2 linked regions of the Homo sapiens genome follow. The protein of the gene in region 2 purifies or fractionates together with the protein of the main gene of each other region. This does not show direct contact. Each region holds a gene or a part of one and is shown on either strand. Other genes may lie near its edges.

Evidence for each region. The genes of interacting proteins can lie anywhere in the genome.
Region 1: the proteins of NECAP2 (region 2) and AP1B1 purify together in Homo sapiens (affinity purification with mass spectrometry; 4 studies listed by BioGRID and IntAct, with this or other methods). This does not show direct contact.

What each region holds. Positions count from the first base shown.
Region 1 is NC_000022.11:29,333,071-29,336,570, forward strand, and holds part of AP1B1 (AP-1 complex subunit beta-1), read right to left. Parts: intron 1,341-3,500; coding exon 1,195-1,340; intron 189-1,194; exon of another isoform or gene 93-188; intron 1-92. UniProt on the Homo sapiens protein: Subunit of clathrin-associated adaptor protein complex 1 that plays a role in protein sorting in the late-Golgi/trans-Golgi network (TGN) and/or endosomes.
Region 2 is NC_000001.11:16,446,768-16,450,998, reverse strand, and holds part of NECAP2 (adaptin ear-binding coat-associated protein 2), read right to left. Parts: intron 3,130-4,231; coding exon 3,025-3,129; intron 2,940-3,024; coding exon 2,858-2,939; intron 1,907-2,857; coding exon 1,798-1,906; intron 875-1,797; coding exon of another isoform or gene 779-874; exon of another isoform or gene 758-778; intron 1-757. UniProt on the Homo sapiens protein: Involved in endocytosis.

The sequences.
Region 1 (3,500 bases), on a different chromosome or scaffold from region 2:
TGGCCTCCAGGGTCACATGAGGGTAAGTGGTAGAGCCACCCCTAGCCCCGGTCTGCCCAAGGGTCAGGACCTACTGGCCCCCAGGCTTCCTTGGGGAAGCAGCCCCTTCAGTCAACTTCTTAGAGGCTCAGTTTGCTCATCATGAGCGTGCTCAGGAAGAAGAATCATCAGGAGGGGCTGCCAGGGGTCCCCAGGGAGTCCTAGCCTCACTGGCTGGGTCCATGACGCAACCTTCCCACTGACACCCAGTGTAGCGGACCCGGTGGGGAGGGGCCTGAAGCAGCTACCGCTCCCAGAGGCCCCATCTGACACTTTAATCCTCTGCCACAATGGGGAGGCTGGTAGGCAGGCCCACTCCCCACCAGCCTTCTGAGAGCTGGTCCCTAAGATGGGCCCCTCCTATGTGGGGTGTTTGCCAGAGGTGGGCTTCTCAGCTGGAGCAGGGCGTTTCTGTCTGTAAAACACTCCTTTGGACTGTGGAGGCAAAAATAAGGGGGGCCAGGTGTGGTGGCGTGCACCTGTAGTCCCAGAGACCCAGGAGGCTGAGGCAGGAGGATTGCTTGAGCCCAAGGGTTCAAGACCAACCTGGGCAATACACTGAGGCCATCTCAAAAAAAATAAAAACTAAAAAGAAAGACGTCCTTTCCCACTCTGCCTGGTACTTTGGAGTCCATATGAAGAGGCCACTTGGGGGTAAAAATCCCACTGCTTGGCTGAGCACGGTCACTCACACCTATAATCCCAGCACTTTGGGAGGCCGAGGTGGGCGGATTGCCTGAGCTCAGGAGTTCGAGACCAGCCTGGGCAAGATGGTGAAACCCCATCTCTACTAAAAATACAAAAAATTAGCCAGGCGTGGTGGTGTGCACCTGTAGTCCCAGTTACTCGGGAGGCTGAGGCGGAAGAATTGCTTGAACCCAGGAGGTGGAGGCCGCAGTGAGCCGAGATGGCGCTGCTGCACTCCAGCCTGTGTGACAGAGTGAGACTCTGTCTCCAAAAGAAAAAACAAACAAACAAAACCCAGTGCTTCAGAGAGTTTTGGCCTGAGCGGTGGTGGGGAACATCCTTCAGAAAAGGGGCACTGCCCTCCCCTCTACAGCCCCCACCCCTGCCTGCAGTCCCCAGAACAGACTCCGAGTGGGTTCTCTCACAGGCCTCCTCTTGAGAGGTGCGCTGGCCTCAGGGAGCTCTCACCTGTTGCGGTTGAACTGGATGGCAAAGTCGGTCATGACCTGCAAGGCCTTGTTGGTCAGCTGCAGGTCCATGGAGATGGAGCCCACCTGGCGGGTGAAGGTGCCTGAGATCTCCAGCCCCTTAGCCTTCATGGCTGGGAGCCAGACCTGCAGGGAAGAGGGTGCGGAGGGGGCGGGTAGGTGCCTCTTCCTGCAGCCCAAACTCAACAGCCCACCTGAGGGTGCTTTTTCTCTCTCTCTCCTGCAGGGGCCTCCCAGATCCAGCACCCCCACCTTTACTGCTAGGGGATGAACAGGTGTGTACTGGGAACAGAACAATCCCATGTACCATCTAGGGCCACCGCCATGACAGGCTGCCTCTCGGAGCAGCTCAGGGTGGGGAGGCACTTCAGCGCTCCAGGGCTGACGTTGAGTCCTCAGAGGGCAATGGAGGGATCACTTGGGAAGTAGGGCTGAGGGAGGCCATGAGCTGGCAATGGAGGGATCACTTGGGAAGTAGGGCTGAGGGATGCCATGAGCTAAGGACAGAGCTCAGTGCCCAATGGCATCCTGGGCCTCGGCCAGAATCTGGGCCTTCCTGGCCATCACCGCCTGTCCTCCCTTGCAGGAGGCAGGGCTGGCCTTTGGCTGTAGAAACTGGTCTGACCAAGGACAGTACCTAAGAGGACCCCTCGCCTGGCAGGCCTTCTGCTGCTTGGCTGCCCTTGTCATTCAAGTCTCAGCTCAAGAACCACCTCCTCCTGGAACCCTGCCCCCAGGTTCCCTCGCCCCAGTGATGTTATGGCAGATAAATATGAGCTTGTGTCTGTCTCTCCTGTACTCAGAGAGCTCGCTGAGGGAAAGGCTCTGTTTTTCTGTCTTTACCACCTTGGCTCAGAGCCTGGTGTGAAACCAGTGTTTGGGGAGTGTTTGCTGAGCAAACAGGATGAGTTAGAGCCCTGCCATGGAAGACATCCACCAGCGGCATCCTGTGGGCTCACAAACGCCTCTCAGGCGGTTACTCTCCTGTGGACGGCTCACAGGCCCCTTGAGGTGAAAAGGCTCAGACCCCACCGACAGCTTCCGCAGCGCACTCAGTGCCAACAAAGGTCCCACTGTCTCTCAGGTTGCCAGGCCAGAAACCACAGAAACATCAGGCACCAGCCCCCCACCCCACCCTAACCCCCTTGAGACAGTCACGCAACCCAAGTCCTGTGAAGGCCACCTCTTACATCTGCCTCCAGGGCCTCCATTTCTCTCCATCTCCAGAGGTGCCACCAGCATCTAAGCTGCCACCAGATTTCCCAGGTAAGACAGCAGCTGCCAGGTGGCACCCCATTTCCACCCTCTCCCCCTTTCCACAGCAGCTGATGTTATCTTGTGAAATGCAAATCTGATCATGGCACCCTGAGAAACTCCTTCCAATCCTGCAATGGCCTCCACGGGCCTTGGCCTCCACAGCCTGGTGCCCATCTGCTCCCCAGGCTTGGCTTGCCCCTGCCCCTGGGACCTCACACTGGCTGTTCCCTCTGCTTTGAAAGCGCCTCCCCACCCCCATCCTGCTCGGTTAACCCTGAGCACGCCCCCGGACAGATCTGTGAGGACAGAAAGCACCCTGCTTTTGTTCTTGGCTGTGCCACGGCGGCTGAGAGAGTACGCAGAAGCTGGCTGAACCTGACCGGGGGGCATGGCTCTCTCATGGACAACTCTCCAGGGGCCCCCCAATCAGGCCTCCTTTCCCCTGGCCCTCTCTCAGTCGCCCAAGGCTGGGGATGCAGACCGCACTGCTCTTGGTCACTATGGGTTCATGGCATCTCACACAGGTCCCAACAGAACCATCTTCAATCTTTACTGGATGAACCAATGAACTGTCACCACCAGCAGACTCAAATGGTGAGGAACCCAAAAGTTCTTATGCACAGACAGCCTCATTCCTTAGACCAACATGGTTGGCCAATGTCTGTAACCCCACAAGCAGGGTGTGGAAATGCATGAGGAATGAACAATTCCAGGTGGCCACAGCGCTGTTAGGAAGATGTGGATACCTACTGAGTGATTCTGAAGGGATAGTGCACCCACACCCTAGAACCCTCCCATGACCAAGGCAGTGGGGAAAGTCCTGCCCGTGGCAGAAAAACTCCTCCTCCAGGCAACCTGCCCTGATGACTCTTGACTAGGAGATCCCCTCCCCTCTCCTTTCCAGCATGCTCTGTTGGATACACTCATCTGACCCTTCACGAAGACAAAGCAGGGGTAACACTGGTAAGACAAACACATGGCTGGGCGCAGTGGCTCACACCTGTAATTCCAGCACTTTGGGAGGCCGAG
Region 2 (4,231 bases):
AAGGTGCAAGTTTATAAATTGGGTGTTTTGTTTTGTTTTGTTTTTTGAGCCAGAGTTTCGCTCTTGTTGTCCAGGCTGGAGTGCAATGAATGGCTCGATCTCAGCTCACTGCAACCTCCACCTCCCAGGTTCAAGCCAATTCTCCTGCCTCAGCCCCCGGAGTAGCTGGGATTACAGCCATGGACCACCATGCCCGGCTAATTTTGTATTTTTAGTAGAGACAGGGTTTGTCCATGTTGGTCAGGCTGGTCTCGGACTCCCGACCTCAGGTGATCCGCCCACCTCAGCCTCCCAAAGTGCTGGGATTACAGGCGTGAGCCACCACTCCCAGCCTATAGATTAGATTTTTTAAATTTCACAGAGTTCTGCATTTATGATTTGTACACTTTTTTACATGCACATTATACTTCAAGAAAATGCTTTAAAAAAAAAACTGAGCACCAAGCATGAGCCAGAAAGCAGCACAAGTTACACAGATGAAGATAATGTGTTCCCTACTTGTAAGGAAAGCAGCAGCTTAATAAAATCGTAAGTCCAGCCCTGAAGTCAAAAGACCTCAAAGACCTCAGTGTGAGCACAGCTGTGCCAGTTATTTCTAGCTCTGTGACCCTGGGCAAGTCCCCAACCCTCCCTAAGCCTCCATTTCCTCATCTCATGGAGGAAAGGGAGAGGATGTTTAATTCACATGAGAAATGCCTAAAAAAAAAAAACAACAAAACAAAACAAAAAACAAAACAAAACAAAAAAAAACCACTACCTGGCCCTCAGCTGATGCTCATTAAATGTTAGTTTCCTCCAAGCGAGAGAAAGAATCACATCCCAACCAGTCCACTGGATTGGACTTGCATTTCTCTCTTAAGGGCCAGCTGGCCAACTTCAAGGATCCCAAATCATCACCAGCACGAAGCAGAAAAGAGGAGAAAGAGTAAGTAAAGAGGAAAAGCATTATTTTAGAGTTACAAAGCTTCTTGAAAAAACAAATCCATCTCAACACAGTATTCCTAGCAAAAACAAAAACCAATCCACTTGGTCCTTGGGTCCCCGCAATCATGACTCTGACCTCATCTCCCCTCTCCACCCTTGCAGCCAGGTAAAGGCCAACTTTAGGCAACCCAGCCCAGCCCAGCCCAGCCCAACCTGTTCCTATGAACAGGAGCTGACGGGAGGGAAGCCAGAGGCAGAGCAGCTCAGAACGAAGACACAGGAGCCAGGACAACACCATCAGCACAAGCTGCCCAGGACTCCCAGCGCCCACCTCAACGCCCTCCTGCCAGAACTCTCCCAAATCTTCCTTATTCAAGACACAGCCTGGGATGAGCACACAGGTCCCTCCTGATGCACTCTAATAGCTAGGACAGAAACACCACCTCTGGCAGCAAATGACTGATGCTCCTTCTCAGTTCAGAGGCTTTGCACCTGCTGTTCCTCTGTGTGAACCACTCTTTGATCACTCTTCCCTTGCCTACAGGTCCCTTCTTCCAGGAAGCCTTCCTTGGTTCCCACAACTATGGGCTGCACACCCTTCCTCTAGGAGCCCACGGCACCCAGGGCATCCCTTAGTCATGGAACCTTTCCTGCCATGTTGTTATCACATTTTTACCTGCCTGTCTCAGCTCAACTCTGAGCTCCATGAGAACAGAGGTCTCTTGTTCACCCCGATGCAGGACCTGGCACAAGGCAGATGCTCACTAAACATCTGCTGAACTGAAGGAGCTGAACTGTAAGAAGAGCAATGGGCTCTGGGGCTGGGTGGCCACAAGTATCACGTCACCACAGCCAAGCAAGGGTAGAACTCACTGCGATGTTGAGCTTGATGGTCTGGCCCTCCTTGAAGCCCAGGTCCAGTTTAGGGCCTTGGTCTGGGTTCTGGGCTTGTTTTGCAAATTCACACTGCTGTTTCACCCACCTGGGGAGAGAACATGAGGAAAAAGGTGAGGAAGGAAGAGACCAGCTGCCCTGCAATCACTGGCTCACTTCACTACTGCCTGCTATCAGTCCAGGCTGAGCCTCGTAGTGAGACGGGGTGCTGGAAAGAGTGCAGGCTTGGGAGTGAGGCCTGAATTCAAATCCCAATCTGACACTTAAGTAGCGGCATGCACATTGGTTTCCTCATCAGCAAAATATGCCCACAATTCTATAGGTTTTCAAGATGGCTACGAATGCAGCGAGATCACTTACGTAGAGGGTCCTAACACTATCTCTAGGACACGTGAGAGCCTGCCCTTCCCTCTACAGTATATGACATGAGAACTAAGATGCGGTCTCTACACACCCTCAAACACTCAGAAGGCAGACGGGGGGACAAGACAGATACCCAAAAGTAGAGGGCAACACAAAAGTCCCCCACCCTCCATACCACACCACCCAGCAGCACCGGTAAGGGAAGAGCCAGAGGCGCCCATGTGAGTGGCCGGGCACAGCCCACTCACTGGCAGCCTGAGTTCGAGCCCTGCAGATGGTGGAGGAGGACTTCCTGCCCTGTCTCTTAGCTTCAGAAAAGGACATCAGGGCATCTGCTGGGTGCCCTGGGAATCCAAGCGCCATTGATTACATGGAGGAGCAGGCCCAGAAAGGCCACAGGAGCCTGATGAGGACTCTGGCTGCTCAGGGGACTGGTAAGGGGAGACAGGTGGCAGGCCCGAAGGCTGGGATGGTAGAGATGAGCCTCAGGTAAAAGAGAAGGCTTTACAGCAGAGATGAACATTGGCAGAGAAGAGAGGTGGCTTGTCCTGGGTTCTCCTGAGTCTCTGCTGCCAGACAAATCACACACAAACACTTGGGTATCCTAACCTGGGAGATCATTCTGTCCAGGGAAAGAAGGGAGGGGCATGAGCGTGTGTCTCCCAGACCCACTCACTTGAAATGGTCCTGCAATGCAACATTGAAGTCAAAGGCATCACCTCGGTCCCCGAAGCCAATTCCAATAAACGCCCGTCGCCCTGGGGAACAACACATGATCAACCCACCTTCCAAAGGCAGAGAAAACCTTTCCCAAGAGGAGGAAGCACCAGGACCCATGCCTACCATTTCCATCTTCGATGCGGATCACGAAGTACCTGCTGGAATCCGTCACACTCTCCACAGCTGTGCCAGGAAACTGATCCACCGGGGCCTGAGCAAAGAGCTCCCCTGAAAGCACAGGTTAGGCTGAGCGCTGAGCCCTGAGCCCCCTTCCAGCCAAGGTTTTCTACCACACTACTGGGCCTTTTGCCCGCAAGGCATCTCTAACCAGCTGAGACAGATCGGCAAACCTTACTGTGGGATTCAAATCGAATCCATTCTTGCTAAAGGGAAGACACAGAAAATATAATCAAGGAAAGGCTTAAGTCAGAGAGCTTACAGGTCAAATTTAGCTCACAGTTTGGTATTCTGCCTGGCCTCTCTTAAAATTAAGCTTTATTAATGCTGAGCCTCCAAGCCCACCTGAGAATAAGTTGGAGCTGCTAGCCCATCCATTCCATCTGCTTTACCCACTTATATTACCTGAACCCTGAGTGTCCTAGAACAGGTGAACCCTGGCCTAGGTAATCACACCTGCTGAAGAGGCTAGTACCTGAGGCAGGACTATAAGAGGGGCCAGTGAGCCCCGAGGAAAGAAGGGAGGAAGTTTTCATACCCATAGGGAATCTGAAGCAGGCTGATTTAATTCAATCTGAGACAGGGCAAGCGTGACTAGCTTTAAAAGCCCTTGTGAAACACATCACCTTGTCAACTACAGCACTCGACAGTGCGGCACAACATAAAATTTCCACAAGCATTTATGACTGGCATCAGTTTTTCCCATGTGCTGACGTCTGTTGTTGCTTTTAGTATTTTTTGTTTTGTTTTTTAGAAACAGGGTCATGGAGTGGGTATGGTCCCAGCACTTTGGGAGGCTGAAGTGGGGTGCGTTGCTTGAGCCCAGGAATTTGATTTATACCTTTTTTTTTTTTTTTTCCTGAGATGGAGTCTCCCTCTGTCACCCAGGCTGGAGTGCAGCGGCGCAATCTCGGCTCACTGCAACCTCCGCCTCCCAGGTTCAAGTGATTCTCCTGCCTCAGCCTCCCAAGTAGCTGGGATTACAGGCATGCACCACCACGCCCCACTAATTTTTGTATTTTTAGTAGAGACAGTGTTTCACCATGTTGGCCAGGCTGGTCTTGAATGCCTGACCTCAGGTGATCTGCCTGCCTCAGCCTCCCAAAGTGCTGGGATTACAGGCGTGAGCCACTGCACCCAGCCCAGCCCAGGA